4 linked regions of the Homo sapiens genome follow. The protein of the gene in region 4 interacts with the protein of the main gene of each other region in a pairwise test. Each region holds a gene or a part of one and is shown on either strand. Other genes may lie near its edges.

Region 1 (7,023 bases), on a different chromosome or scaffold from region 4:
CGGACCTGGTTCAGTGACCAGATAGAGTGGAAGGAGCTGCCCTGAGGTACAGGAGACTTCCAATAGGCAGGTAAAAAGTGGTTATTAGAGTCTGGGTGCAGTGGCCTACACCTGTAAGCCCAGCGCTTTGGGAGGCCGAGGTGGGGCGGATCACTTGAGGTCAGGGGTTGGAGACCAGCCTGGGCAGCATGGCGAAACCCCGTCTCTACTAAAAATACAAAAACTAGCCGGACGTCATGGTACACGCATGTAATCCCAGCTACTGAGAAGCGCTTGAACCCGGGAGGCAGAGGTTGCAGTGAGCCAAGATCATACCACTGCACTCCAGCCTGGGCGACAGAGCAAGACTCTGTCTCAAGCTGGGCGTGGTGGCTCACGCCTGTAATCCCAGCACTTTGGGAGGCTGATGCGGGTGGATCACCTGAGGTCGGGAGTTTGAGACCAGCCTGACCAACATGGAGAAACCCCGTCTTTACTAAGAGTACAAAATTAGCCGAGCGTGGTGGCGCATGCCTGTAATTCCAGCTACTCAGGAGGCTGAGGCAGGATTGTTGCTTGAACCTGGGAGGCAGAGGTTGCAGTGAGCCAAGAGCGCATCATTGCACTCCGCTCCAGCCTGGGTTACAAGACTCTGTCTCAAAAAAAAAAAAAAGTGGGGGGTTATTAGAGAAGTCAGCCTTGACCGAAGTGAGTTGATCTGGTGTGTGAGTGTAAAGGGTAAGTCAGTGACCTGCCCGTAATGAACAGATGGGAAAGTAGTTACCGGCGTGCTTTGGCGAGTGGGAAGCCTCTTTGGGGGGCAGGAAAGAGGCAGTTTATGGGTTCCACTTTAGTAAGGAAACACGGACAAAGATCATAGTGGTTGTGAGCAGTCAACCAGGTCAGCCCCTGTGCTTTGTGGGCCTTAAATGATTACATCTTCATAACGGCCTAGTGAGGGAGGTATCCACATCCTCATTTTGGGGGCACGGAGGAGCTAAGCCTCTTGTGTGAGGTCCCACAGTCCATGCAAGGGTGTTATTCCATTCTAGAGTGTTTTGCTGTAGAGTTACTGCTTTTAACTGTTAGGCTTTTGAAGTAAAAACCACAGGTATCTTTGTGGGAGGAAAAAGACAGTAAAAACCAGAGAACTAGAAGTTATGCTGAGAAGTGGCCATCCTGGGTCCCAAGTCCACTTCTGTGGCCCTCCCTGGGCTTCAGTGTCAACTGATGACTTGCTTTCTTCCTTTTTTTTTTCCCCCTGAGATGAGATCTCACTATGTTGCTCAGGCTGGCATCAAACTCCTGGGCTCAAGCGATCCTCCCACCTCAGCCTCCCAGAGTGCTGGGATTACAGGCGTGAGCCACCATGCAGGGAAGAGGTTCCCTGTTTGTCTGGAAGACCCTCCTATGTGGCTGTGGGCGTGACTCTTCGTGTCCCCAGCATGGGGCCTGCCTCCTGCTGGCCCAGCACTTGGTTGTGGAGGGTCAGAGCTTGGGCACCTTGGGCCCCATCCTTAGGGGCCTCTACCTCCAGGTAGGAGCCTGGGGACCTCCAAGTCTCCTGGGGTGACTTGGGATTCAGGTCTGATGGCTCCCATGGAGGTGAATAGGGTGGGTGGTCTTTGGCAGTGGGTAGGGCTGAGGCCTTGACTTGTTCTCTTTCCCATTCTTAGGGCTGACAAAGAAGAGAACCAAAGTCCAGAAGAAGTCACTGCTTCTCAAGAAACCCCTTCGGGTTGACCTCATCCTCGAGAACACATCCAAAGTCCCTGCCCCCAAAGAGTGAGTGTCCCAGCATCCCTGGGCCCTTCTTTCCCACCAGACTCTGGTCCTAAAGGGTTTCCGGGGCTGGGGGCTGGTAGGTGAGGGTCATTTGAAGGGTAGGGCAGGCTCAGGTTTGGGCTTCGGAGTGCAGATTAGAGGGAGGGAGTCTGGGTGCCCTGGTGCTGGGCCGAGGCAGGTGAGGAGGGGCCTGGACCCAGCTGGGGGCTTCGGGGTTGGAGAGGAGGGGCTGAGTGGGAGGCGTGTTCAGGAGGCACATCAGGTGGGTCTTGGGGCATGAGCGGGTGAGAGGGTGGACAGCTGGCCTTCCCCTGAGATGGGGATGTGGAGGAGTGGGATTTCGGGTGATGCTGAGGTTGGTTTTGACGTGGTGGTGTGAGGTGCCTGGGGTATGTCCAGGACGGGGCTGTTGCTTCGTTGAGTCTGGGGCTCAGAGGGGAGGCCTAGGCTGGAGACAGACGTGGGGAGAGGAGTTCTCTGAAGAGGGGGCGGAGTGCCACCTTTTGGAGAGGGGGTGCTGAAGCTGCCTTAATGGTGGAGGAAGCCCGACGGGGAGGAGGCCCTGCTGCCGTTCAGGCTGCCACCTCACCTGCTGCACTTGTGCCCCCTCTCCCCGACCAGCGTCCTCGCCCACCAGGTCCCCAACGCCAAGAAGCTCAGGCGGAAGGAGCAGCTATGGGAGAAGCTGGCCAAGCAGGGCGAGCTGCCCCGGGAGGTGCGCAGGGCCCAGGCCCGGCTCCTCAACCCTTCTGCAACAAGGGCCAAGCCCGGGCCCCAGGACACCGTAGAGCGGCCCTTCTACGACCTCTGGGCCTCAGACAGTGAGTGATCCTGCTGTCACCTATGAATGGGGACAGGACGGCCATGTGCAGTTTGTGTGTGTTGTGCACTGCACGAGAGTACAGTGTGAAAGGGAGTGCTTTGTGGGTGCTTTGGTGACCTCCCAGCAGAGTCGTGCGTCCTGAAGGGGCGGCCGTTTCCCACTCGTGCTTTTCCTTTCCTGAGTTGTGAGGCTTCAGGAAAGGAAGCCTTCAGCTTTGGTCTCTTCCACTTTCTGAACCCGTCCAGACACAGTTTTGTCCTGGTGATCAAGGCCCTTGGGGTCTAGAATCAGTCCTTCCCTTGCCTGAGCTTCAGGGTCACCTTTTTGAAATGTGGAGGGATTGGGGGGGAGCCTTTGGTGCCTCTTCCATGCTGGGACTGTCCCAGCAGCTCCCCTCGCTGTATCCACAGACCCCCTGGACAGGCCGTTGGTTGGCCAGGATGAGTTTTTCCTGGAGCAGACCAAGAAGAAAGGAGTGAAGGTGAGATGTGTGGGAAGGGCATCCTGGGTGATGGGAGGGTGAGGAGGGCCGGGAGCTGCTCTGTGTTCCTGCAGTAGAGTCTGTCTCAGAGCCCTTCCATCCCAGTGGCCGAGAACTCTGTGCTGGAGCCAGGTGGCTGGGATTCCTGTCCCAGCTCCAGTGCTGACTGATCCTGGGAAGGTGGTCTCACCTTTCTGCAACCTATATCTTCCTCTAAAATGCAGATGAGGGCCGGGCATGGTGGCTCACGCCTGTAATCCCAGCACTTCGGGAGGCCGAGACAGGTGGATCACCTGAGGTCGGGAGTTTGAGACCAGCCTGACCAACGTGGTGAAACCCTGTCTCTACTAAAAATACAAAAAAAAAATTAGCTGGGCTTGGTGGCACGTGCCTGTAGTCCCAGCTATTAGGGAGGCTGAGGCAGGAGAATCGCTTGGACCAGGGAGGTGGAGGTGGCAGTGAGCCGAGATCATGCCACTGCACTCCAGCCTGGGCAACAAGAGCGAAACTCTGTCTCAAAAAAAAAAATAAAATAAAATACAGATGAAATTGTACTTAGATCATGGGTCGGTGGGGAGAATGTAAAGAGGTAGCACATGAGAAGGTGGAGCCCGTGCTGGCAAGTGGCAGAAGTGTCACGGGTTTGAGTTTGGATTTGCAGCCTCCTTCTTGAGCTGCTGGACCCCAAGTGTTAGAGCCCAGGTGCTTACAATCTCCGGGGCTCAGCCTCGTGGGTAGCAGAGGATAGGCTGCTATCCTTTTTCTGAGATGGAGTCTTGCTCTGGAGTCACCTGAATGCCCCTTGAGCTCTTCCCACACCCAACCACTGGCAAGGCCTGGAGCATCTGCCCCATGGCTGTGTCCTGGGTCACCCGCAGCCCCAACGCACGGCCTTACCCTGCCTCGGCCTTTTCTCCACAGCGGCCAGCACGCCTGCACACCAAGCCGTCCCAGGCACCCGCCGTGGAGGTGGCGCCTGCCGGAGCTTCCTACAATCCATCCTTTGAAGACCACCAGGTACACTGCCCCGTCCAGGCCTCCCTCCTCAGTGGGCTCTGCCTCTTGGTCAGGCCTTCACTAGCTTCCTCCCTGTGCTGGGAACTCCAATGACCCAGACAGCCCTGGGCCTGTCCGCAACGGGGCTCACGGTCCAGTGCAAGAGACCTGTTCCCAGACAGTGATGGGCAGAGTGGTTGGGGCTGGGAGCCCAGACGGGGCACCTGGCCCAGCCTGGGGGGTCAGGAAGGGCTCCCGGGAGGAGGGGTCGCCTGAGCCGAGGCAGAGGCTGAGGGAGGGGTTTGCAGTGGGAGGAGGGGAGTGGGTTTTCCAGGTGGTGGGAACAGCACTGCAAAGGCACAGAGTTGAGAGAGACCGTGGCGCCTTCCAGGAAGCCTGTGGGGCAGAGATGAAAAAGGCTGTGGTGACACGGTGGCACACTGGCAGCCAAGTGACAGTTATATATGGGCGAGGCTAGCTCAGCGATGGGAAAGTCTAGCTGGAGCCACTGTGCATTTAGCGGGCATCTGTTGAGCACAGATGCTGTGGACAAAGGGGACAAAAACCCCTCCCTTGGCCGGGTGCGGTGCCTCACACCTGTAATCCCAGCACTTTGGGAGGCTGAGGCGGGCAGATCATTGGAGGTCAGGAGTTGGAGACCAGCCTGACCAACATGGTGAAACCCTGTCTCTACTAAATACAGAAAATTAGCAGGGCATGGCAGCACGCATCTGTGGTCCCAACTGCTTGGGAGGCTGAGGTGGGAGGATTGCTTGAGCCCAGGAGGTCCAGGCTGCAGTGAGCTATGATCGCACCACGGCACTGCAGCCTGTGTAACAGAGCGAGACTCAAAAAACAAGCACAACCCTCCCTCAAGGAACAGCCCTTCTCATGGGGTCACGTGACTGGAGAGATGCTGAGATGTTTGCGGTAGATGCAGGACCGCTTGTCCGAATCGTTTTCAGCATTCATAAGAAGGAGATAGCTAGCCAGGAACAGAGGCAGCTTCCTCATCTGGTAGAGAAAAGTGTCTGCGGAAAAAAGCAACAGTGTGCTCATGGTTGAAAGCGTGAGGGTGCCGCTCACTGCCATCTGTTCCTGGACCAGATGTGGGAGGGGGCGTGGAGATCAGACATTCACTTTTAGATTTGTACAGAACTACTTCGTAGAGATAAAATTCACTTAACCATACGGTCAGCCTAGTTAGAGTATGTGATTCAGTGGCTTTTAGTGACCATTGTGTAACCATCCCCGCAGTCAATTTTAGAACATTTTCACTGTCCGTAAAGGAAACCTCACACATGTCAGCCATCACCCCCGCAATTCCCTGTCTCGTGTGGTCTTGGGCTGCCAGGCTTCCTGTCTCAGGGACCAGCCCACCCTGACCAATTCACATAGATGAAACTGTGGGCCGGGCATGGTGGCTCACACCTGTAATCCCAGCACTTTGGGAGGCCGAGGTAGGTGGACCACCTGAGGTCAGGAGTTCAAGACCAGCCTGACCAACATGGAGAAACCCCATCTCTACTAAAGTTACAGAATTAGCCGGGTATGGTGGCACATGCCTGTAATAGTAGCTACTCGGGAGGCTGAGGCAGGAGAATCGCTTGAACCCAGGAGGCGGGGGTTGTGGTGAGCTGAGATCACACCATTGCACTCCAGTCTGGGCAACAAGACAGAAACTCTATCTCAAAAAAAAAATGTGAAGCGTGCAGGTCAGACTGCCTTCACAGACGTGCAGAGCAGGTGTGAGGGCGAGGGTTTGAGGTGCCCTCTGGCTCTGTGCAGGGTGGGTGTGCTGGTAGACGGGGTGTGGGGAGGAAAGCCTGGGCCGGGGCGGGATCCACGGGCACTGGATGAGGGACAGATGGGAGGTAAGAGGGTCTAGTCTCAGTGTCCCAGGAGGGGTTCAGGGACCCATCCTCACTCCCGCCCCTCAGACCCTGCTCTCAGCGGCCCACGAGGTGGAGTTGCAGCGGCAGAAGGAGGCGGAGAAGCTGGAGCGGCAGCTGGCCCTGCCCGCCACGGAGCAGGCCGCCACCCAGGTGAGCCCCGCACCTGCCCACTCCCTCCCCTCCCCGGGCCTCCTACCCACCCCTGACACTGCACCCCGCCTCCCCAGGAGTCCACATTCCAGGAGCTGTGCGAGGGGCTGCTGGAGGAGTCGGATGGTGAGGGGGAGCCAGGCCAGGGCGAGGGGCCGGAGGCTGGGGATGCCGAGGTCTGTCCCACGCCCGCCCGCCTGGCCACCACAGAGAAGAAGACGGAGCAGCAGCGGCGGCGGGAGAAGGCTGTGCACAGGCTGGTGAGCGCCTGGGCCAGCGGGGCCTGCCTCTGATGCCTCGCCCCCTTCCTTCCTTCCTCCCACCATGGGCTGCCCTGGGTGCTGCGGGCAGCCTGCACACCCCAAGCCCCGCATGTGGCCTGTGGTTTGGGCTGTTTGGGATCCTCACAGCTGAGACTCATTTCCCAGCCTCTTCCAGGCAGGGCTCGGGCTGGGGTGGGACAGGGTCCCTGGCGCTTCTGTTTGAGGGGCGGGGTGGGGGGAGGTTTCTGCACCGCAGACCAGGGGAGATGGATGACAAAAGGGGCTTCAGCAAACAGCTGCTGGGAAGGCACTGGAGGGGCCGCTGATGTGACGGGGTTAGGAAGGGCCTCCGGGGACAGGCAGGTTTGTGCAGGGAAGGCTCCCTGTGTAGAGAGAAGGTCTCCCTGTGTGGGCAGCACCGGCCTGAGCCCTGACCCTCCCCCGTCTCCACAGCGGGTACAGCAGGCCGCGTTGCGGGCCGCCCGGCTCCGGCACCAGGAGCTGTTCCGGCTGCGCGGGATCAAGGCCCAGGTGGCCCTGAGGCTGGCGGAGCTGGCGCGGCGGCAGAGGCGGCGGCAGGCGCGGCGGGAGGCTGAGGCTGACAAGCCCCGAAGGCTGGGGCGGCTCAAGTGAGAACCAGGCCGGGGGTTC
Region 2 (7,023 bases), on a different chromosome or scaffold from region 4:
TTTTGCCTTATTTCCATTTTCTTTGTTCTGATTTGTTATTCTTATTTATGATTTTCTCATATTTATAGTTTGTCATTCTTCTATAAATATGGTTTTGTTATAGTTACTTTGAATTCTTTGTAGCACCAAGTAGAAAAGGCACACAAAAGGAGTGAACTTAGAGGATATGCTTTTTAGCTAAAAGATCAAATCACCTGCTCCTCCAAAGCATATCACAGTGTCCGAGGGCCCTGCCCTTTAAGAGACAATTATTTGAGTCTTAAAGACTTGTTCGTCTTCTGAGCACCTGCAAAAATGTAGTAAGTGGCATTTTCAAGTCTGTATCATCACACACCTAGTGAAACGAAGAGTGTGAGCATGAGGGGAGCCTGAGGGCAGGATGCCGGGGGTAGGGCATGCTCACAGGAGAAAAAGCAAGCACAGAGATGCTCATCACTCACCCAGGGCCTCGCCAAGGGATGCCAGGGGATGGACACCTGAGAAGGGGCTGGGGAACAAACTCTGGCCATGGGAGGCCTGGGTCCAGGTGGCAACACTGCCTGTTAGCAACACGGGACCTTCAGTAAGCCATCTTCATGATGTCCAAAGTCAGGTGGTTGGGTGAGATGGAGTCCATGGTGACTCCAGCCTTGGGATTCCGACCCTGTTCCTGGGGAGGAGGGCCCTGAGGATGCACCTGAGCCCAGGAAGCTGAGACTGCCCTGCTTGCAGCTGGCCCTAGGAGGAGGCACACACTTGGGGCTATATGCAGACCAACTTTGCTCCTCCACTTGAGGGCAATGATCCCCATATTTCCATGGCATCCCCAGGGCACTGACTGGACAAGGAAAGGCTGCAAAGCCAGAGGAACCTTCCAGAATGATCCTCCTGGCAATTGCTTGGATCAAGCAAATGGTCACAGCTGTGTCAGATTGTAAGTTCTCACAGGCTGTGGCAGTAGTTTGCAGTTTTGTCTTCAAACATGGGCTGGGGTGCGGGTTAGCAATGGGGTAAAAAGCAGTGAATGATGTCCCTTGTGGACACTTTCAGAACCCAGGGCCAGAGAGAAATACTAACCTGAGAATAATCTACCCCTTGGAAAACTCACCCCTGAATAAACCACAGGCACTTCCCTCCTGCACCAGCCATGGCCCCATCCAGAGTTCACCCAGCAGCATCTGCATCTCCAATGTCATTGGGCCCACTGCAGCTCCGAGGCACAGTCGAGGCAGGATTTGTTATCTGTTTTACCGATTAGGCAACTGAGGCTTAGAGAGCTTAGACCCACTCAGAGTGGATCACAAAACAGAGATGAGAGCCCAGGCCTCTGTCCCTAACCACCCTGCAGTTCCCAGAGCCCACTTTGCCTTCTGTTCTCAGCATCCCACATGGCCACAGTCCTCAGAAACACACTGGCATTCAGGTCACCCAACACTGACATGGGAGCGGGGGAGGAAAGAATTGCAGGGCTTGGACATGTGGAGCCGGAGCCTGTGGTTCTGCTTGAGTTTCCCTGGTTAACTTTTGAGGGGTCTCAGCCAGGTGTGGCACCGAGTCTGGGCTGCCCAGGCTGTGCATGAGTCCCAGTAACTCTGTCTTCTCTTTTGTGTGTGTGTATTTCTGTGTGTGTGTACATCTATCACACAGAAGAAGAGCGTGATTTCTCCTCCAAGGCCGTTGATCTCCAACCCAGAACTAAAGGGGAGAAGAGCCACCCCCAGCATCCAGCGTGGCATCTCTTGTGCCAGGACCAGGGATGACTGGGCCATGGACACAGATGTCTCCAACCTTCAACCGTTTGCATAGCACACGGGGGACTCGTGGGGGCCACCTGCCACTGCCAGCTGAAACAATACAATGGCAATACTGACATCCTTCATGACGTTTTCCCGACAGACATTCAGGCAGAAAGTGCTGGTGCGTTTTCTGTCTGCAAAGTAGAGGGCCATGCCTCACCAATAGAATAGCGTGGGCCCTGATGACCTGCTCCGAGTCCACTCACAGCCAGTGACACTTGCAAAAAACTCCCAAAGCCGTCTTGGGTTTGGCTCCCACAGCTCTTGACCAATGTGGCCAAAGCTGGACACCTCCTTGGGACACTGGGATTATTCATAAATGCAGCCCGCCCTGACTCTCCCTGAATAGCATCTGAAGTCTTTGTGAAGGTCATGGATCCTGAACAAAGTGTCAAGGGCACCAAGAAGGCTGAGGGAAGTCCCCGGAAGCGGCTGACCAAAGGAGAGGCCATTCAGACCAGTGTTTCTTCCAGCGTCCCATACCCAGGCAGCGGCACAGCTGCCACCCAAGAGAGCCCCGCCCAAGAGCTCTTAGCCCCGCAGCCCTTCCCGGGCCCCTCATCAGTTCTTAGGGAAGGCTCTCAGGAGAAAACGGGCCAGCAGCAGAAGCCCCCCAAAAGGCCCCCCATCGAAGCATCCGTCCACATCTCACAGCTTCCGCAGCACCCTCTGACACCAGCATTCATGTCGCCTGGCAAACCTGAGCATCTCCTGGAGGGGTCCACATGGCAACTGGTTGACCCCATGAGACCTGGACCCTCTGGCTCCTTCGTGGCCCCTGGGCTCCATCCTCAGAGCCAGCTCCTTCCTTCCCACGCTTCCATCATTCCCCCCGAGGACCTTCCTGGAGTCCCCAAAGTCTTCGTGCCTCGTCCTTCCCAGGTCTCCTTGAAGCCCACAGAAGAGGCACACAAGAAGGAGAGGAAGCCCCAGAAGCCAGGCAAGTACATCTGCCAGTACTGCAGCCGGCCCTGTGCCAAGCCCAGCGTGCTCCAGAAGCACATTCGCTCACACACAGGTGAGAGGCCCTACCCCTGCGGCCCCTGTGGCTTCTCCTTCAAGACCAAGAGTAATCTCTACAAGCACAGGAAGTCCCATGCCCACCGCATCAAAGCAGGCCTGGCCTCAGGCATGGGTGGCGAGATGTACCCACATGGGCTGGAGATGGAGCGGATCCCTGGGGAAGAGTTTGAGGAGCCCACTGAGGGAGAAAGCACAGATTCTGAAGAGGAGACTAGTGCCACCTCTGGTCACCCTGCAGAGCTCTCCCCAAGACCCAAGCAGCCCCTTCTCTCCAGCGGGCTATACAGCTCTGGGAGCCACAGTTCCAGCCACGAACGCTGTTCCCTGTCCCAGTCCAGCACAGCCCAGTCACTCGAAGACCCCCCTCCATTTGTGGAACCCTCATCTGAGCACCCCCTGAGCCATAAACCTGAAGACACCCACACGATTAAGCAGAAGCTGGCCCTCCGCTTAAGCGAGAGGAAGAAGGTGATCGATGAGCAGGCGTTTCTGAGCCCAGGCAGCAAAGGGAGTACTGAGTCTGGGTATTTCTCTCGCTCCGAGAGTGCAGAGCAGCAGGTCAGCCCCCCAAACACCAACGCCAAGTCCTACGCTGAGATCATCTTTGGCAAGTGTGGGCGAATAGGACAGCGGACCGCCATGCTGACAGCCACCTCCACCCAGCCCCTCCTGCCCCTGTCCACCGAAGACAAGCCCAGCCTGGTGCCTTTGTCTGTACCCCGGACGCAGGTGATCGAGCACATCACGAAGCTCATCACCATCAACGAGGCCGTGGTGGACACCAGCGAGATCGACAGCGTGAAGCCAAGGCGGAGCTCACTGTCCAGGCGCAGCAGCATGGAGTCCCCAAAATCCAGCCTCTACCGGGAGCCCCTGTCATCCCACAGTGAGAAAACCAAGCCTGAACAATCACTGCTGAGCCTCCAGCACCCGCCCAGTACCGCCCCCCCTGTGCCTCTCCTGAGAAGCCACTCAATGCCTTCTGCCGCCTGCACTATCAGCACCCCCCACCACCCCTTCCGAGGTAGCTACTCCTTCGATGACCATATCACCGACTCCGAAGCCCTGAGCCACAGCAGTCACGTGTTTACCTCCCACCCCCGGATGCTGAAGCGCCAGCCGGCAATCGAATTACCTTTGGGAGGGGAATACAGTTCTGAGGAGCCTGGCCCAAGCAGCAAAGACACAGCCTCCAAGCCCTCGGACGAAGTGGAACCCAAGGAAAGCGAGCTTACCAAAAAGACCAAGAAGGGTTTGAAAACAAAAGGGGTGATCTACGAATGTAACATATGTGGTGCTCGGTACAAGAAAAGGGATAACTACGAAGCCCACAAAAAATACTACTGCTCAGAGCTTCAGATCGCAAAGCCCATCTCTGCAGGCACCCACACATCTCCAGAAGCTGAAAAGAGTCAGATTGAGCATGAGCCGTGGTCCCAAATGATGCATTACAAACTGGGAACCACCCTGGAACTCACTCCACTGAGGAAGAGGAGGAAAGAGAAGAGCCTTGGGGACGAGGAAGAGCCACCTGCCTTTGAGTCCACAAAAAGTCAGTTTGGCAGCCCCGGGCCATCTGATGCTGCTCGGAACCTTCCCCTGGAGTCCACCAAGTCACCAGCAGAACCAAGTAAATCAGTGCCCTCCTTGGAGGGACCCACGGGCTTCCAGCCAAGGACTCCCAAGCCAGGGTCCGGTTCAGAATCAGGGAAGGAGAGGAGAACAACGTCCAAAGAAATTTCTGTCATCCAGCACACCAGCTCCTTTGAGAAATCTGATTCTCTCGAGCAGCCGAGTGGCTTGGAAGGGGAAGACAAACCTCTGGCCCAGTTCCCATCACCCCCACCTGCCCCACACGGACGCTCTGCTCACTCCCTGCAGCCTAAGTTGGTCCGCCAGCCCAACATTCAGGTTCCTGAGATCCTAGTAACTGAGGAGCCTGACCGGCCGGACACAGAGCCAGAGCCGCCCCCTAAGGAACCTGAGAAGACTGAGGAGTTCCAATGGCCCCAGCGCAGCCAGACACTTGCCCAGCTCCCAGCTGAGAAGCTGCCACCCAAAAAGAAGAGGTTGCGCCTGGCAGAGATGGCCCAATCATCAGGGGAGTCCAGCTTCGAGTCCTCTGTGCCTCTGTCTCGCAGCCCGAGCCAGGAAAGCAATGTCTCTTTGAGTGGGTCCAGCCGCTCAGCCTCGTTTGAGAGGGATGACCATGGGAAAGCCGAGGCCCCCAGTCCCTCATCTGACATGCGCCCCAAACCCCTGGGCACCCACATGTTGACTGTCCCCAGCCACCACCCACATGCCCGAGAGATGCGGAGGTCAGCCTCAGAGCAGAGCCCCAACGTTTCCCATTCTGCCCACATGACCGAGACACGCAGCAAATCCTTTGACTATGGCAGCTTGTCCTTGACAGGCCCTTCTGCTCCAGCCCCAGTGGCTCCACCAGCGCGGGTGGCCCCGCCAGAGAGAAGAAAATGCTTCTTGGTGAGACAGGCCTCTCTGAGCAGGCCTCCAGAATCTGAGTTGGAGGTTGCCCCCAAGGGAAGACAGGAGAGCGAAGAACCACAGCCCTCATCCAGTAAACCCTCTGCCAAAAGCTCATTGTCCCAGATTTCCTCTGCGGCCACCTCACATGGTGGACCCCCGGGAGGCAAGGGCCCAGGGCAGGACAGGCCCCCATTGGGGCCCACTGTGCCCTACACAGAAGCACTGCAAGTGTTCCACCACCCCGTTGCCCAGACACCCCTGCATGAGAAGCCATACCTGCCCCCACCAGTCTCCCTTTTCTCCTTCCAGCATCTCGTGCAGCATGAGCCAGGACAGTCTCCAGAATTCTTCTCCACCCAGGCCATGTCCAGCCTCCTGTCCTCACCATACTCCATGCCCCCACTTCCTCCCTCCTTATTTCAAGCCCCACCGCTTCCTCTCCAGCCTACTGTTCTGCACCCAGGCCAACTCCATCTCCCCCAGCTCATGCCTCACCCAGCCAACATCCCCTTCAGGCAGCCCCCTTCCTTCCTCCCCATGCCATACCCGACCTCCTCAGCACTGTCTTCTGGGTTTTTCCTGCCTCTGCAATCCCAGTTTGCACTTCAGCTCCCTGGTGATGTGGAAAGCCATCTGCCCCAGATCAAAACCAGCCTGGCCCCACTGGCAACAGGAAGTGCTGGCCTCTCCCCCAGCACAGAGTACAGCAGTGACATCCGGCTACCCCCTGTGGCTCCCCCAGCCAGCTCCTCAGCACCTACATCAGCTCCTCCACTGGCCCTGCCTGCCTGTCCAGACACCATGGTGTCCCTGGTTGTGCCTGTCCGTGTTCAGACCAATATGCCGTCCTATGGGAGCGCAATGTACACCACCCTTTCCCAGATCTTGGTCACCCAGTCCCAAGGCAGCTCAGCAACTGTGGCACTTCCCAAGTTTGAGGAACCCCCATCAAAGGGGACGACTGTATGTGGTGCAGATGTGCATGAGGTTGGGCCCGGCCCTTCTGGGTTAAGTGAAGAGCAAAGCAGAGCTTTCCCAACTCCATACCTGAGAGTGCCTGTGACATTACCTGAAAGAAAAGGCACTTCCCTGTCATCAGAGAGTATCTTGAGCCTGGAGGGGAGTTCATCAACAGCAGGGGGAAGCAAACGTGTCCTTTCACCAGCTGGCAGCCTTGAACTTACCATGGAAACCCAGCAGCAAAAAAGAGTGAAGGAGGAGGAGGCTTCCAAGGCAGATGAAAAACTTGAGCTGGTAAAACCATGCAGTGTGGTCCTTACCAGCACCGAGGATGGGAAGAGGCCAGAGAAATCCCACTTAGGCAACCAGGGCCAAGGCAGGAGGGAGCTAGAAATGCTGTCCAGCCTGTCCTCAGATCCATCTGACACAAAGGAAATTCCTCCCCTCCCTCACCCTGCATTGTCCCATGGGACAGCCCCAGGCTCAGAAGCTTTGAAGGAATATCCCCAGCCATCTGGCAAACCTCACCGAAGAGGGTTGACCCCACTGAGCGTGAAGAAAGAAGATTCCAAGGAACAACCTGATCTCCCCTCCTTGGCACCTCCGAGCTCTCTGCCTCTGTCAGAAACGTCCTCCAGACCAGCCAAGTCACAAGAAGGTACGGACTCAAAGAAGGTACTGCAGTTCCCCAGCCTCCACACAACCACTAATGTCAGTTGGTGCTATTTAAACTACATTAAGCCAAATCACATCCAGCATGCAGATAGGAGGTCCTCTG
Region 3 (7,023 bases), on a different chromosome or scaffold from region 4:
ATGGAGTTTGTTTCCAGTGCAGAGAGGATAAACAAAAAAGAAGTCTGCCATTCAGTTTTATCGGAATAAGAGGGAAATAAACTCAGACAACAAAATTTTTAGTAATGAGATCAATGTGATTGGAGTCCCCCAAGTTTAAAAATAAAAGCTATTCAAATTTCTGCAAGAGGTGCCCTCCTTTGAAACTTGAGTAAGTCAGAACTGGGCTAGAAAATTAGTCACACTTCAACTTCCTGAGACCACTTCAAAAGTTTTTTTTTTTTTTCTTTTAAACCATTTGGGCTCCTTAGATTTTTCTCTTATTATTGTTCTGAAACAATCATGATAAAGATGAGGCTTGACAGATCTAAGTTTCTTTCCTTGGACATGTTCAAAGGCGGGGTCAAGGAATAAGGTCAATTTGAGGGTGAGGGTAACTCTGAAATGTACCCCTAGTTATGGGCTCTTTGCCTTTTCCTAAGGATTGTTTGAAATAAGACCATAAGATTAGGACACCAAAGTCCAATGAATCAAAATTGGCCAAAAAACAAACAAAAAATCTCCTTTTCCTAAATGATTATTCATTTTCCTGTTAAGCGTGAATATGCATTATTTCTTGACATGATGTTAATTCCAACGGTGTTTTTATTTGTAGGGTTTTATGAGCTGAGTGATGGGGCTTCAGGATCCCTTTCCAATTCCTCTAACTCGGTGTTCAGTGAGTGTTTATCCAGTTGTCATTCCAGCACCTGCTTTTGCAGCCCCTTGGAGGCGACCTTGAGTCTCTCAGATGGTTGCCCCAAATCTGCAGGTAAGAATTTTTAGCACTGATAGAAATTTTTAATTGGAAGGCATCAAGGGCCCTTAAAAGGTTATTTGGCTCCAGCACCTTTCACTGGTGGAAAAATGAAGGTTCATCACTTTGCGGCATTTAGTGCCATACTTACATCTAGAACTCAGTTTCATCTAGGTGAGTATCTAGAACTATTCCAGTACCCTTTGGGTGCTACTTGGTTATATATTTTGATAGCAGCAAGACACTTTATCTCTAGAAATCCTGTCCCAATATTGTAGGTCTTGAGCTCTGTTTCTGAGCCTTTGCTGTTAGGTTGTCTGTATTTTCTTTCATTTTGGAACTGTTTTCTTCTTTTAATTATGTAAAGCTAAAACTCAGCCAGGTGCAGTGGCTCACACCTGTAATCCCAGCACTTTGGGAGGCTTAGGCAGCTGGATCACCTGAGGTCAGGAGTTCAAGACCAGCCTGGGTTGGCCCGGTGCAGTGGCTCATGACTATAATCCTAGCACTTTGGGAGGCCAAGGTGGGTGGATCACTTGAGGTCAGGAGTTCAAGACCAGCCTGGCCAACATGGTGAAACCCCATCTCTACTAAAAATACAAAAATTAGCCGGGCATGGTGGCACATGCCTATAGTCCCAGCTACTCGGGAGGCTGAGGGAGAATTGCTTGAACCCAGGAGGTAGAGGTCATAGTGAGCCGAGATTGGACCACTGTACTCCAGCCTGGGCGGCAGAGAGAAAAAAAAAACAAAAAACAAAAGACCAGCCTGGGCAACATGATGAAACCCTGTCTCTACTAAAAACACAAAAATCGGCCGGGTGTGGCAGCATGTGCCTGTAATCCCAGCTACTTGAGAGGCTGAGGCAATAGAATCACTTGAACCCCAGAGGCGGAGGTTGCAGTGAGCCGAGATTGTGCCACTGCACTCCAGCCTGGGCAACAGAGTGAGGCTCCATCTCAATCAATCAATCAGTCTAACACTCACATTAAGTTAAATATGTCCATCAGCCTGGCCAAGAACTGGTTGGCACTTCAGGGAGCAATGGCCCTTTCATGTTCTCCAGAATGTTCTGCATGATGGCAGCTTGTTTTTTCTTTTAAGTGGGTGCCCACATGCCATTATTCCTTATTTTGGGATATCTTTGCAATGACCCCCAGAAGGAATCATGCTATTGTACTAGAAGAGTTTCTGCATTTCCAGTATGTGTCACACACTACTGGATGCTCTGTATGTATTTATCTCCAATGAATCCTCCCAATAGTCGTGCACAGTACAGGTCTTGTTAGCTCCATTTTATGTATTAAAAAAATGAGTCCTAGTAAGGTTACATATGTTATTTAAGGCTCTATAGATGGTGAGTGGCAGAGGCAGAAGTTAAGCTCAGGCCTAACTGCCAGGTCCACGTTTTTCATCATCCCAAGGGAATTCAGAAATTGTTGTTTTCAACCTTCTCATCTAACAGAAGAGGAATTTTGGCTTATAAGCTAATTGTCAGAGGTTCTCCATCTGCTGAATGGCAGGGTTGCTGCTGGAACTCAAGACTCCTTCCTTAGTCCTGTTACATTGTGAATTCTTATAAGAGTAGAGAAAATATGAAGATTAGAATTGCTCTGGGTCCTGGGCACAAGTCATCACACTCCTGGTTTGTCTGTGTTCTCCACTTGGGTATAAGCCTGAATTTTTGAGTCCAGGCAAGGCAAACAACACTGAGCAGCTGAGGGAGCTAATTGGCTGGTGTCTTCATATCTGTGTGTTGTCAGCAGCAATCATTTGAGGAAGCACAGAACTGTGTTATCTAGAGGGTCTGGGCCTCAAGTTCATTGGTAATTGCTCCCCTTCATTCCACAGATCTGGTTTCAGAGGGAAACTTTATAAACCCATTAAAGGCACTTTGGTTTAGGTTTTCCTTCAAGACAGACCCGTGCTCTTCCAAATGCCACTTCCTCACATAATTGAGACAGTTGCACCAGGCCTTGGGGGCTAGGATATCTGTTTTGTTCAACTCTAAAGAGGGAAAAGGGATGAATAGTGAAGTGTTTGTCAGTGTGGCTTTAAGTAAGGCAAAGATAGGGCTTACGTTGCTGGGAGAGGAAGGATGGGGAAGGATGTTAGCTAGAGAGGTTTCCTTTTAGAACAAGCTCTTTATTGGGGGGGGTCATGTGGGTGGGGACATGGCACTTTTGTTTTATTATGTTTTCTTTACATATCATCTCTGGGTCTAGACTATTTTTTCCCTGAGACCGCTAATTATCATTGAAGTTTATGGAGCTTTCTCAACATAGAATCAGGCACATATAGGTTCTCAGTATTTGAATGAATAAATACAATGGAGGACAAATTATTACTGATAAACTCAACTTTAATTTTCTCTGATAACTGAAGGTCATTAAATGGATTTGTTATTTATAATATTCACCAACTTAAGAGATCAAAATCCTTTAAGACAGCAAGCTTGATTTTGCTGTACTTTGGCATCTACATTTTCAAGATATGGGAAATTTATCCATTAATATTACCACATGATCTTTTAAAATATTACCAAGAATTCTTTATCCTATTAAAAAAACATTTTTGACAAGTGGGAAATTTATCCATTAATACTACCACTCAATCTTTTAAAATCTTATCAAGAATTCTTTATCATATTAAAAAAGTTTTTTTAAATTAAAAATTTTGTTGTAGAGAGATGGAGTCTCACTGTTGCCCAGGCTGGTCTCGAACTCCTGGGCCTAAGCGATCCTCTGGCCTCAGCCTTTTGGTGTTAGGATTGCAGGCGTGAGCCATCATACCTGGCCCCTGTTTTATTTTTTTAGCATCACTATTGAAAACATAAGGCGATTATTATTTAAATCTGATCAGTTTTTACTGAAGTTTGATCAGTTTCCATCACCTTTCAATTGACAGTTATATTTGAATGGATGTCATTAAGAATTAGGTTTAAAAAAACACAAAATGAGGAGAAAGCCTACTGAACGTACAGTTTATCCTAAAGAAAGCCAGGAATAGAACAGAGGGGAGAGCAGCCTAGAGAAACAGTGATTCAAAAAATGTTTCCCAGTTGTAAACGCAGTACAGACAGTTTAACAGAAAATAAAGAAGAAAGTAAATATCACTTACTTCTGATCATTCTGAAATACTACTACTAGAATCTTGGTGTGCTTCATCTCAGATGTTTTTTCTTTGCATACATGTGATCCTAATAAGATTATAATCATATTCTAGTATTATATCATGATTTTCACTAAACTTTAAAGTGTTTTCCCTCTATTATGCAGTAGTTTGAAAACACTCTTAATGGCTGAATTTTTTTCCTTCAGAGGATATATCATATGCTGTCAAAAATTTTTGTTAAATATTTCCCCCTCATCCAGTAGCAGTACCTACATGTGAAATGGTAGGGCAGCACTTTTTAATCCTTGGCAATCTCTTTTTACCCATGGATTTTTCATAAAAATTGGCCAAAGAGTCAAGCTGGTGCTGACCAATTCATTTCTTCAGAGTGTACCTTTAACTGTTTTTCAGATCTCATAGGATTGTTGGAATATAAAGAAGGCCACTGTGAAGACCAGGCCTCAGGGGCAGTTTGCCGTTCCCTCTCCACACCACAATTTAATTCCCTTGATGTCATTGCAGATGTGAATCCCAAGTACCAGTGTGATCTGGTGTCTAAAAACGGGAATGATGTATATCGCTATCCCAGTCCACTTCATGCTGTGGCTGTGCAGAGCCCAATGTTTCTCCTTTGTCTGACGGGCAACCCTCTGAGGGAAGAGGACAGGCTTGGAAACCATGCCAGTGACATTTGCGGTGGATCTGAGCTAGATGCCGTCAAAACAGACAGTTCCTTACCGTCCCCAAGCAGTCTGTGGTCTGCTTCCCATCCTTCATCCAGCAAGAAAATGGATGGCTACATTCTGAGCCTGGTCCAGAAAAAAACACACCCTGTAAGGACCAACAAACCAAGAACCAGCGTGAACGCTGACCCCACGAAAGGGCTTCTGAGGAACGGGAGCGTTTGTGTCAGAGCCCCGGGCGGTGTCTCACAGGGCAACAGTGTGAACCTTAAGAATTCGAAACAGGCGTGTCTGCCCTCTGGCGGGATACCTTCTCTGAACAATGGGACATTCTCCCCACCGAAGCAGTGGTCGAAAGAATCAAAGGCCGAACAAGCCGAAAGCAAGAGGGTGCCCCTGCCAGAGGGCTGCCCCTCAGGCGCTGCCTCCGACCTTCAGAGTAAGCACCTGCCAAAAACGGCCAAGCCAGCCTCGCAAGAACATGCTCGGTGTTCCGCCATTGGGACAGGGGAGTCCCCTAAGGAAAGCGCTCAGCTCTCAGGGGCCTCTCCAAAAGAGAGTCCTAGCAGAGGCCCTGCCCCGCCGCAGGAGAACAAAGTTGTACAGCCCCTGAAAAAGATGTCACAGAAAAACAGCCTGCAGGGCGTCCCCCCGGCCACTCCTCCCCTGCTGTCTACAGCTTTCCCCGTGGAAGAGAGGCCTGCCTTGGATTTCAAGAGCGAGGGCTCTTCCCAAAGCCTGGAGGAAGCGCACCTGGTCAAGGCCCAGTTTATCCCGGGGCAGCAGCCCAGTGTCAGGCTCCACCGGGGCCACAGGAACATGGGCGTCGTGAAGAACTCCAGCCTGAAGCACCGCGGCCCAGCCCTCCAGGGGCTGGAGAACGGCTTGCCCACCGTCAGGGAGAAAACGCGGGCCGGGAGCAAGAAGTGTCGCTTCCCAGATGACTTGGATACAAATAAGAAACTCAAGAAAGCCTCCTCCAAGGGGAGGAAGAGTGGGGGCGGGCCCGAGGCTGGTGTTCCCGGCAGGCCCGCGGGCGGGGGCCACAGGGCGGGGAGCAGGGCGCATGGCCACGGACGGGAGGCGGTGGTGGCCAAACCTAAGCACAAGCGAACTGACTACCGGCGGTGGAAGTCCTCGGCCGAGATTTCCTACGAAGAGGCCCTGAGGAGGGCCCGGCGCGGTCGCCGGGAGAATGTGGGGCTGTACCCCGCGCCTGTGCCTCTGCCCTACGCCAGCCCCTACGCCTACGTGGCTAGCGACTCCGAGTACTCGGCCGAGTGCGAGTCCCTGTTCCACTCCACCGTGGTGGACACCAGTGAGGACGAGCAGAGCAATTACACCACCAACTGCTTCGGGGACAGCGAGTCGAGTGTGAGCGAGGGCGAGTTCGTGGGGGAGAGCACAACCACCAGCGACTCTGAAGAAAGCGGGGGCTTAATTTGGTCCCAGTTTGTCCAGACTCTGCCCATTCAAACGGTAACGGCCCCAGACCTTCACAACCACCCCGCAAAAACCTTTGTCAAAATTAAGGCCTCACATAACCTCAAGAAGAAGATCCTCCGCTTTCGGTCTGGCTCTTTGAAACTGATGACGACGGTTTGAGTGACATCATTGGTGTAGAAAGTTTGTGTGTTTTTTTTTCTTCTCCCTAGTTGCCAAAATTAAAAAGGTGGTGTTTTCATTTTTGTATAATACTTTAATGGAATGCTTTTTAAAAAAATATAAAACCAAGGTAAATTATTGTTTCATCTTCACGTATGGATGCTAGTGCCTTTAATGGAAGGTAAAGAATGTTTTGCTAGTTAGAAGTACATATTGAGGTTTTAATGGTGGTGATAGTGAGTTTTGTGGCACCAGCTGTTTTTTATTTTAAACTTTCTGAGCATCCGGCAAGGTACAGGTTTTGATGTTCAAGTTTTATTGGGATAAGATCTTTTGATCCCAAGGTCAGGTGGATGGAATTTTTGGATTTATATTTGTTCCTTGAGTCTTCAGGGCAGTGTCTCCATGAGGGTTTTCCTGTTGAGGGGCACCACATACAATAGTGTGAAGTAGGTATGAGGGGCAGTCATTGTATTCTATAGTTTTTTTATGTAGTCTACATTTCTCAGATGTATCCCCATTCGGTTTTATTCTCAGAACTGTTACTAGACTCATGACTTGGAGGCCAAACCTTAAATCCAGAGATAGCAGCCTCGATAGGGACCTTAAAAGGATTCACAAAAACTTTTGCCACACTTGGTGCCTAGGCCCTGTTCCTAATAACCCCTTCTAGGGCCGTTTATCCAACATTTAGATGCCTTCTTTTCCCTCCCTAATTTGTAGCCAGTCCAACCTTTCATTCCTTGGAGGATTTAGTTTTGGGATAAAATTTTGGTCCTTGGGCACAGAGACATTCACTATTAATGAAGTAACCCTTGGGCATGACTCCAATCCCAGAATTGCTCA
Region 4 (7,328 bases):
TCTGTGGCACCTCTCTGATATTCCTCCGGGAGTCTCAGAAGTCATCAGCAGTGTCCTTTAGGTCCCTTTGTCAGTTGCCAGAACTGTCAAAAGACAAAATTACAATGAATTTAGTTTACAAATCTTTTTTTTTTTTTTTTTTGAGACAGAGTCTCTCTCCGTCGCCCAGGCTAGCATGCAGTGGCGCGATCTCAGCTCACTGCAACCTCCACCTCCCAGGTTCAAGCGATTCTCTTGCCTCAGCCTCCCAAGTAGCTGGGATTACAGGTGTACACCACCATGCCCAGCTAATTTTTGTATTTTAGTAGAGATGGGGTTTCACCATATTGGCCAGGCTGGTCTTGAACTCCTGACCTCAAGTGATCTGCCCGCCTCGGCCTTCCAAAGTGTTGGGATTATAGGCGTGAGCCACCGCACACGCCTTTTAGAAATTTTTTTTTTTTTGTTTTTTGAGACAGAGTTTCGCTCTTGTTGCCCAGGCTGGAGTGCAATGGCACGATCTCGGCTCACTGCAACCTCTGCCTCCCGGGTTCAAGCAATTCTCCTGCCTCAGCCTCCTGAGTAGCTGGGATTACAGGCATGCGCACCATGCTCAGCTAATTTTGTATTTTTAGTAGAGAGGGGGTTCTCCATGTTGGTCAGGCTGGTCTCGAACTCCCGACTTCAGGTGATCCGCCCACCTCGGCTTCCCAAAGTGCTGGGATTACAGGCTTGAGCCACTGCGCCCGGCCTCAGCTTTTATAAATCTTAATTGGCTTTTATTTTCTATTCTAGAATCGGGCAACATCTCATTCTATAGAGTGAGTGTTTTGATGAGCTGAGCAAAGGAGGTTGGGTTTGTAGATAGAAAAGGGCCAAGGAAAGTAGAAACAGAGAATACAAAGCAGATTGGTTGTTTCAGGTATTTTCCCTATAAAGGTCAAAGCAAAGGGGCCTTCCTTATCCTGCCAGCTAACACCAGTCTGTTTGAGGATTTGGCCATTATCTGTCTCTCCTGATTACTCAGAAGGTCAAATAAACTTAGTTTCAGCTTGGTCTTGTGGAAGGTGAGTAACTGCATTTTGGTTTGGTCTTTTGGGCATAGTAGAAGAGCTCAGTCCAAACCAATGGCCTCTTATAATTTAATTTTATTTATTTATTTACTTTTGAGACAGGGTCTCACTCTGTCATGAGGATGGCAGGTGCTACTTTGGAGTGCTGGAGTGCAGTGGTGCGGTCTCAGCTCACTGAAGCCTCAACCTTGTGGGCTCCGGTTTTAGGGTCAGTTTGTGCTGTGAGAGAGCGTGTGACCTTTTGGGACTACAGGCAGGTGTCACCACGCCCAGCTAATTTTTTGTATTTTTAGTAGATACGGGATGTCGCCAGGTTGCCCAGGCTGCCTCTTATTATTTATACTCCTGATTATAAAGTACAGGATTTCTGTCTATTTAGGTTTCCAATCCATTCAGATTTTTATGTTATAGATGATGACTGCTGCTATTAAGAAAATGAGGGCAAGAGTAAATATAGGCAGAGTCTCCAATACATCAGCAACCTGTTATTTGTAGTGATGATCTGTTAGGAAGGGCTAACCCATTTTCCTTCTTGAAAGGGAGGCTTACGAAAAGAAAAATAGGTCAGGTGTGGTGGTTCATGCTTGTAATCCCAAGCACTTTGGGAGGCTGAGGCAGGAGGATTACTTGAACCCGGGAGGTCAAGGCTAGTGTGAGTCATATTCCCACCACTGCACCCCAGCTCGGGCAAAAGAGCAAAACCCTGTCTCTATATAAATAAGTAACTCTAGGATTCCCAAATCTTGCAGATGAAGAAACCCCCTTCTCTTTTTTGGCTGGGGTGGGGAAGACTAGCCTGTTCTTTGTTTTCCTTGGGAAGTTACAGGATTACTGATGAACAAAATTACTGTTCAGGGAAGAGACATCCAGTGGCTTCTATGTCCAGGCCCATTCCCAGGAACCACATTTCCAGAGGGGCCTCAACCCCTGAGGCCTCAACTGGCCCCTTTCCAGGTATCCAAGAACAAATCACGAACAAGCAGTGGGAAACAAAAACCAGCCTGACCTCAGCACCTGCTCTCACCCCAAAGGGAGGTGAGGGCTGCTGGCATTGGTGGGTCCTGGGCCTAGCCTCTAGCCAGAGGATGTGGGGACCTCTCTTGGGGGCCTGCCCTTCCCACACCCCCTCTCCCAGCCAGGCTGTCTTGGACATTTCTGGGACTCCTCTGAGGGATCATGGTTCTTGCTCTGGGGTTTTCTTTTGTCATTTTAACACTGAGGCATCCCAGCCTCCCTTCCTGGAAGATGGAGTATTTGCACTGTTGCCTTTTCTTTTGTCCCTGTTTTTGTATAAAAATGACAATACTCTCCGTCGGACTGTATTTTAGCCCAAAAAACAAAACTAAACCCCTTTTTCTTTGATACTCCAGGTTCATAGAGCCAAGCCTATCAATTTTTTTCTTGTTCTTTGTTTTTTGGTTGGGGAAAGGGTTTTCTAAGAAATACTGAATTTTCCTTACCTAAAAGTAGTCCAGGTTAAACAAGTCAAACTTTAAATGTAATACCCATTGCTTTAAAATATTCTAGCAAAGAAAATAAGGTCTGGAAGATGGTGGTAGGGGATAGATGAAACAAGACTGAAAAGTGTTGACAATTTATGAAGTTCTGGAAATTCATTCTGCTCTTCTGTTTGACATTTTCCACAGTAAGGAGTTTTTAAAAATACTAGCTTTCTCTTATTTTTTACTCTAACAACTTCCTTTTGCTTGTCTTTGACAAGTCCTGGCTCAGGAGGAGAAAAGCTGCACAACCAGTCTTTGTGTATGTGTGTGCAAATCTCTGTGTGTTCACTTGTGAATACAGTTTCATTAGGGGAGGGTTCACCTTTGTTATGTATTATCAGTACATAATAAATATATATGTTTTCTTTTATTTTTTTAGAGACAGGGTTTCACTCTGTCACCCAGGCTGGAGTTCAGTGGTGGCAATCATAGCTTACCACAGCCTCTACCTTCTGGGCTGAAGCAATCGGCCTCCCAAGTAGCTGGGACTACAGGCCCACGCCATCACACCCAGCTTTATTTATTTTTTGTATAGACGGGGTCTCCCTATGTTGCCCAGGCTGGTCTGGAACTCTTGGGCTCCAGTGATCCTCTCACTTCAGCCTCCCAAAGCGCTGGGATTATAGGCATGAGCCACCACGCCAGGCCTATATTTCATTTTAAAACAACGAAGTTCTCCTTCCTCACATACCTCAAATTCGGGGGGTACCAAATCTCTGATATTATCCCAACGATTTTTTTATAACCAAGGTATCACAATTCCTTTCAGAAAGGGTTCTTTAGCCACTCACACCACGGGTTTCGGTGGCACAGCGCAGGGCAGCACAGACTTGTGCTACAGCTCTCGGCCCTACCCAGAGCAGGATGGCCCTAACCTAATTTTTTTGTTTGTTTGTTTGGAGATGGCGTCTCACTCTGTCGCCCAGGCTGCAGTGCGGTGGCACGATCTTGGCTCACTGCAACCTCCGCCTCCTGGGTTCAAGCGATTCTCCTGCCTCAGCCTCCTGAGTAGCTGGGATTACGGGCACCCGTCACCACACCCGGCTAATTTTTGTGTTTTTAGTAGAGACACAGTTTCACCATGTTGGCCAGGCTGGTCTTGAACTGCTGACCTCAGGTGATCCGCCCTACCTCGGCCTACTAAAGTGCTGGGATTACAGGCGGGAGCCACCGCGTCCGACCTAATTTTTTGTATTTTAGTAGAGACGGGATTTCACCGTGTTGCCTAGGTTGGTCTCGAACTCCTGACCTCAGGCAGTCCACCCGCCTCTGCCTGCCAAAGTGCTAGGATTACAAGAATGAGTCACTACGAATGAGTCACTGCGCCAGGCCCCTAGCCTCACTTACTTTGGGCCTCAGTTTCCACCGCCTGAAAAAAGAGCAGTTCGATTGCACCCACTTCCCCGGGCCCCGCCCAAACCATGGGCAGCCCCGCCCAAACCATGGGCAGCCCCGCCCAAACCATGGGCAGCCCCGCCCAAACCATGGGCAGCCCCGCCCAAACCATGGGCAGCCCCGCCCAAACCATGGGCAGCCCCGCCCAAACCATGGGCAGCCCCGCCCAAACCATGGGCAGCCCCGCCCAAACCATGGGCAGCCCCGCCCAAACCATGGGCAGCCCCGCCCAAACCATGGGCAGCCCCGCCCAAGGGCGGAGACTGGGCGGAGCGTCGCGCTCTCCTCCACCTCCTTCCGACTCTCGGAGGCCCCCCACCCAGTGCCCGCGGCGCATGTGCCAGGCACACCCCACCCCCAACCGGCCCTGGATTCCACTTCCGTTCCACCATCGCTGCTGGAGCAGCTGCCTTCAGGCCCTGCGCCGCCTCCGGAGTCCATGGCCGGCACGCGCTGGGTACTCGGGGCGCTGCTCCGGGGCTGCGGCTGTAACTGCAGCAGCTGCCGGCGCACCGGCGCCGCCTGCCTGCCCTTCTACTCCGCCGCTGGCTCTATCCCGTCGGGCGTCTCGGGCCGCCGCCGCCTGCTGCTGCTGCTCGGGGCCGCCGCGGCCGCTGCCTCCCAGACGCGTGGCCTCCAGACCGGGCCTGTGCCTCCCGGGAGGCTGGCGGGGCCTCCCGCTGTGGCCACCTCTGCCGCGGCCGCGGCCGCCGCGTCCTACTCTGCCCTCCGTGCCTCTCTGCTGCCGCAGTCGCTGGCGGCGGCGGCCGCCGTCCCGACGCGCAGCTACAGCCAGGTACGTGGGCGCCGTGAGGGACCTGGCGCGAGATCCCTCCCGGGCCGCGTGCACGCGCCCCCGCGCCCCTCCGTCCCTCCGTGTGCGCCTCGCGGGCACGCCCGGGGATCCGCGACACTCGCCGCACACCCGCCCCCGTCCACCCTGTGCTCCTATTGGGCCCTGGAACAAGGGAAGCTCTCCCAGGCGTCGGGTCTTCTGCTTGTTTTGTTCTCGCCTCGAGTCTCTGGTCGGTTGGGCAGTGTAAGTGTGGCTGGGGTGAATGTTGAGGCCTTGTTCCCCGCCTGGCCCATGGTAGGTTTCGTGAGGCTGCTGACGCCCCCACCTCGCATCTTCTTGCTTTCCGCCGGCTGGTTGTGAAGTTGCGAGGCCCGAGCCCGCCGGAGGGTTGGGAGTTTCCGTGCAGCCCGAGCGCTAGGCCTGGGCGGCCCTCGGCGCCTCTCGGTCGGCCGCTGCTGGGAAGGTGCGCGCACACAGTTGCGTGGGCTGGCTTGTAGGGAAGGAGCCTGTCCCCATCGCGCCGTTCCCTCTCCTGTCCCCAGGGAAAGACGAGCTGTCCCGGTTTACTGAAGGTCACCTCTGCAACTCCACTCATACAGAAGGTCTTTAAGGACTGTGTGTCGCCTCGTCTGGGAAAGCAGTTTGGAGATTTAGCTGTTGGGGGGAGGGGGTGAATGGGAGGGAGCGTTGAGGGTTGAGGACACAACTTGGGGTCCCAGGAATGAATTTGCAATGTTTTCCTTTCCATTTTTTCTTTATTTTTTTAGAAAAGTCGGTGTGTAGTTAGATTGCAAATATTTTGTGCTTTGTAGATGAACCTTTCTCTTCTTGGTACGTGGCATCTGGGAAGTGTCTGCACACTTTTTAACTACCCAGCCCCTGATTCCTTAGGTCATATTTATCTTAATTCAATTTGTGCTTCTCCTTTAACTTAGGGAGACTGGGAGGCTAATCAGCATGGCTGCTGTCTGCCAGTGGCTGAGCTAATTGATTTGAATCCTGGCCCAATACTTTACGCTGCCTTTTTCTGTAAAAGCTTGTGATGCTTATGGAATTATGGAAAAATGGGGAAAGTTGTCTACAAAAACCACAACAAAACCATCTCCAGTAAACCTTTGTGAGCTAGCTTCTCTCTTTTTTTTTCTATGAAATTGACTGCGGTGATATCTGTAGAGCATCTACTATGTGTTAGACACTGCTTACATTTATTCCTTAAAACTAAACATTAAGCCTTTTTTTTTTTTTTTTTTTGGAGACCGAGTCTCGCTCTGTCGCCCAGGCTGGAGTGCAGTGGAATGATCTCGGCTCACTGCAAGCTCCGCCTTCCGGGTTCACGCCATTCTCCTGCTTCAGCCTCCCGAGTAGCTGGGACTACAGGCGCCCGCCACTGCGCCCAGCTAATTTTTTGTATTTTTAGTAGAGACGGGGTTTCACCGTGGTCTCGATCTCCTGACCTCGTGATCCGCCCGCCTCTGCCTCCCAAAGTGCTGGGATTACAGGCGTGAGCCACCGCGCCCGGCCTAACATTAAGCCTTAATGAAAATTATAGATAGGGCTGGGCGCGGCACTTTGGGAGGCTGCGGCGGGTGGATCACCTGAGGTCAGGAGTTCGATAGCAGGCTAACCAACATGGTGAAACTCCGTGTCTACTAAAAAAATGCAAAAAAATTAGCCGGGCGGGGTGGCGGGCGCCTGTAATCCCAGCTACCCGGGAGGCTGAGGCAGGAGAATCCTTTGAACCCGGGGAGGTTGCAGTGAGCCGAGATTGTGCCATTATACTCTAGTCTGGGCGACAAGAGCGAAACTCCGTCTCAAGAAAAAAGAAAAGAAAAGAAAATGACAGATAGTAGAAAGATATCTCTGTCCTTAGTCCGGTAGAGTGCAAGTCTTTTTTTTTTTTTTTTTTTGAGACGGAGTCTTGCTCTGTTGCCCATGCTGGAGTGAAATGCCGAGATCTCAGCTCACTGAAACCTCTACCTCCCGGGTTCAGGCGATTATCCTGCCTCAGCCTCCCGAGTAGCTGGGATTACGGGCACACGCCACCACACCCGGCTCATTTTTTGTATTTTTAGTAGAGATGGGGTTTTGCCATGTTGGCCAGGCTGGTCTTGAACTCCTGACCTCGTGATTCGCCCACCTCGGCCTCCCAAGGTGCTGGGATTACAGGCGTGAGCCACCGCACCTGGCCCAGTAGAGTGCAAGTCTTAAAGCCTGAGTTGTCTTCTTAGGTTATGGTTGTAGTGCTTCGTGGATTCTTACTAAATTCCAGTTTTACTTAATCCGATAAAAGAGACTTTACAAGTCTGTAGCCTCACACTGCTGCCGTTGTCTTTAAGATCTTTCCCTTAATCACTTGGTCTGGCATACCAGCTGACAGAGGAATATTCCCAAGGCGTCCTGCTGTCTTGTTGATTTACCCAGTCCTCAGTGTCTTGTATTAACTTATCTTTGCCTACCAAGTGAAGGACACACATTGAGCTCCACACTCAAGGCCCTCTGCTCTATGGTACCAACCTCTTTTGCCAGGTCACCTTCTTTGGCTCCTAATTTAAACAGTTGGAATTAATTGCTGTTATTCAAATG

Evidence for each region.
Region 1: the proteins of GRSF1 (region 4) and NOP53 interact in a two-hybrid assay, tested with the Homo sapiens proteins (one study listed by BioGRID).
Region 2: the proteins of GRSF1 (region 4) and HIVEP3 interact in a two-hybrid assay, tested with the Homo sapiens proteins (one study listed by BioGRID).
Region 3: the proteins of GRSF1 (region 4) and DACT1 interact in a two-hybrid assay, tested with the Homo sapiens proteins (one study listed by BioGRID).

Annotation. Positions count from the first base shown.
Region 1 is NC_000019.10:47,748,523-47,755,545, forward strand, and holds part of NOP53 (ribosome biogenesis protein NOP53), read left to right. Parts: intron 1-1,655; coding exon 1,656-1,764; intron 1,765-2,385; coding exon 2,386-2,585; intron 2,586-2,997; coding exon 2,998-3,068; intron 3,069-3,989; coding exon 3,990-4,085; intron 4,086-6,004; coding exon 6,005-6,109; intron 6,110-6,186; coding exon 6,187-6,369; intron 6,370-6,825; coding exon 6,826-7,001; intron 7,002-7,023. UniProt on the Homo sapiens protein: Nucleolar protein which is involved in the integration of the 5S RNP into the ribosomal large subunit during ribosome biogenesis. In ribosome biogenesis, may also play a role in rRNA transcription.
Region 2 is NC_000001.11:41,579,922-41,586,944, reverse strand, and holds part of HIVEP3 (transcription factor HIVEP3), read left to right. Parts: intron 1-1,626; coding exon of another isoform or gene 1,627-1,639; 5' UTR 1,640-2,147; coding exon 2,148-7,023. Other genes in the region: uncharacterized LOC128125817, read left to right, coding at 1,627-1,639.
Region 3 is NC_000014.9:58,640,958-58,647,980, forward strand, and holds part of DACT1 (dapper homolog 1), read left to right. Parts: intron 1-634; coding exon 635-790; intron 791-4,300; coding exon of another isoform or gene 4,301-4,411; coding exon 4,412-6,177; 3' UTR 6,178-7,023.
Region 4 is NC_000004.12:70,836,888-70,844,215, reverse strand, and holds the start of GRSF1 (G-rich sequence factor 1), read left to right. Parts: upstream 1-4,325; 5' UTR 4,326-4,388; coding exon 4,389-4,745; intron 4,746-4,954; exon of another isoform or gene 4,955-5,036; coding exon of another isoform or gene 5,037-5,039; intron 5,040-5,070; exon of another isoform or gene 5,071-5,224; intron 5,225-7,328. UniProt on the Homo sapiens protein: Regulator of post-transcriptional mitochondrial gene expression, required for assembly of the mitochondrial ribosome and for recruitment of mRNA and lncRNA. Binds RNAs containing the 14 base G-rich element.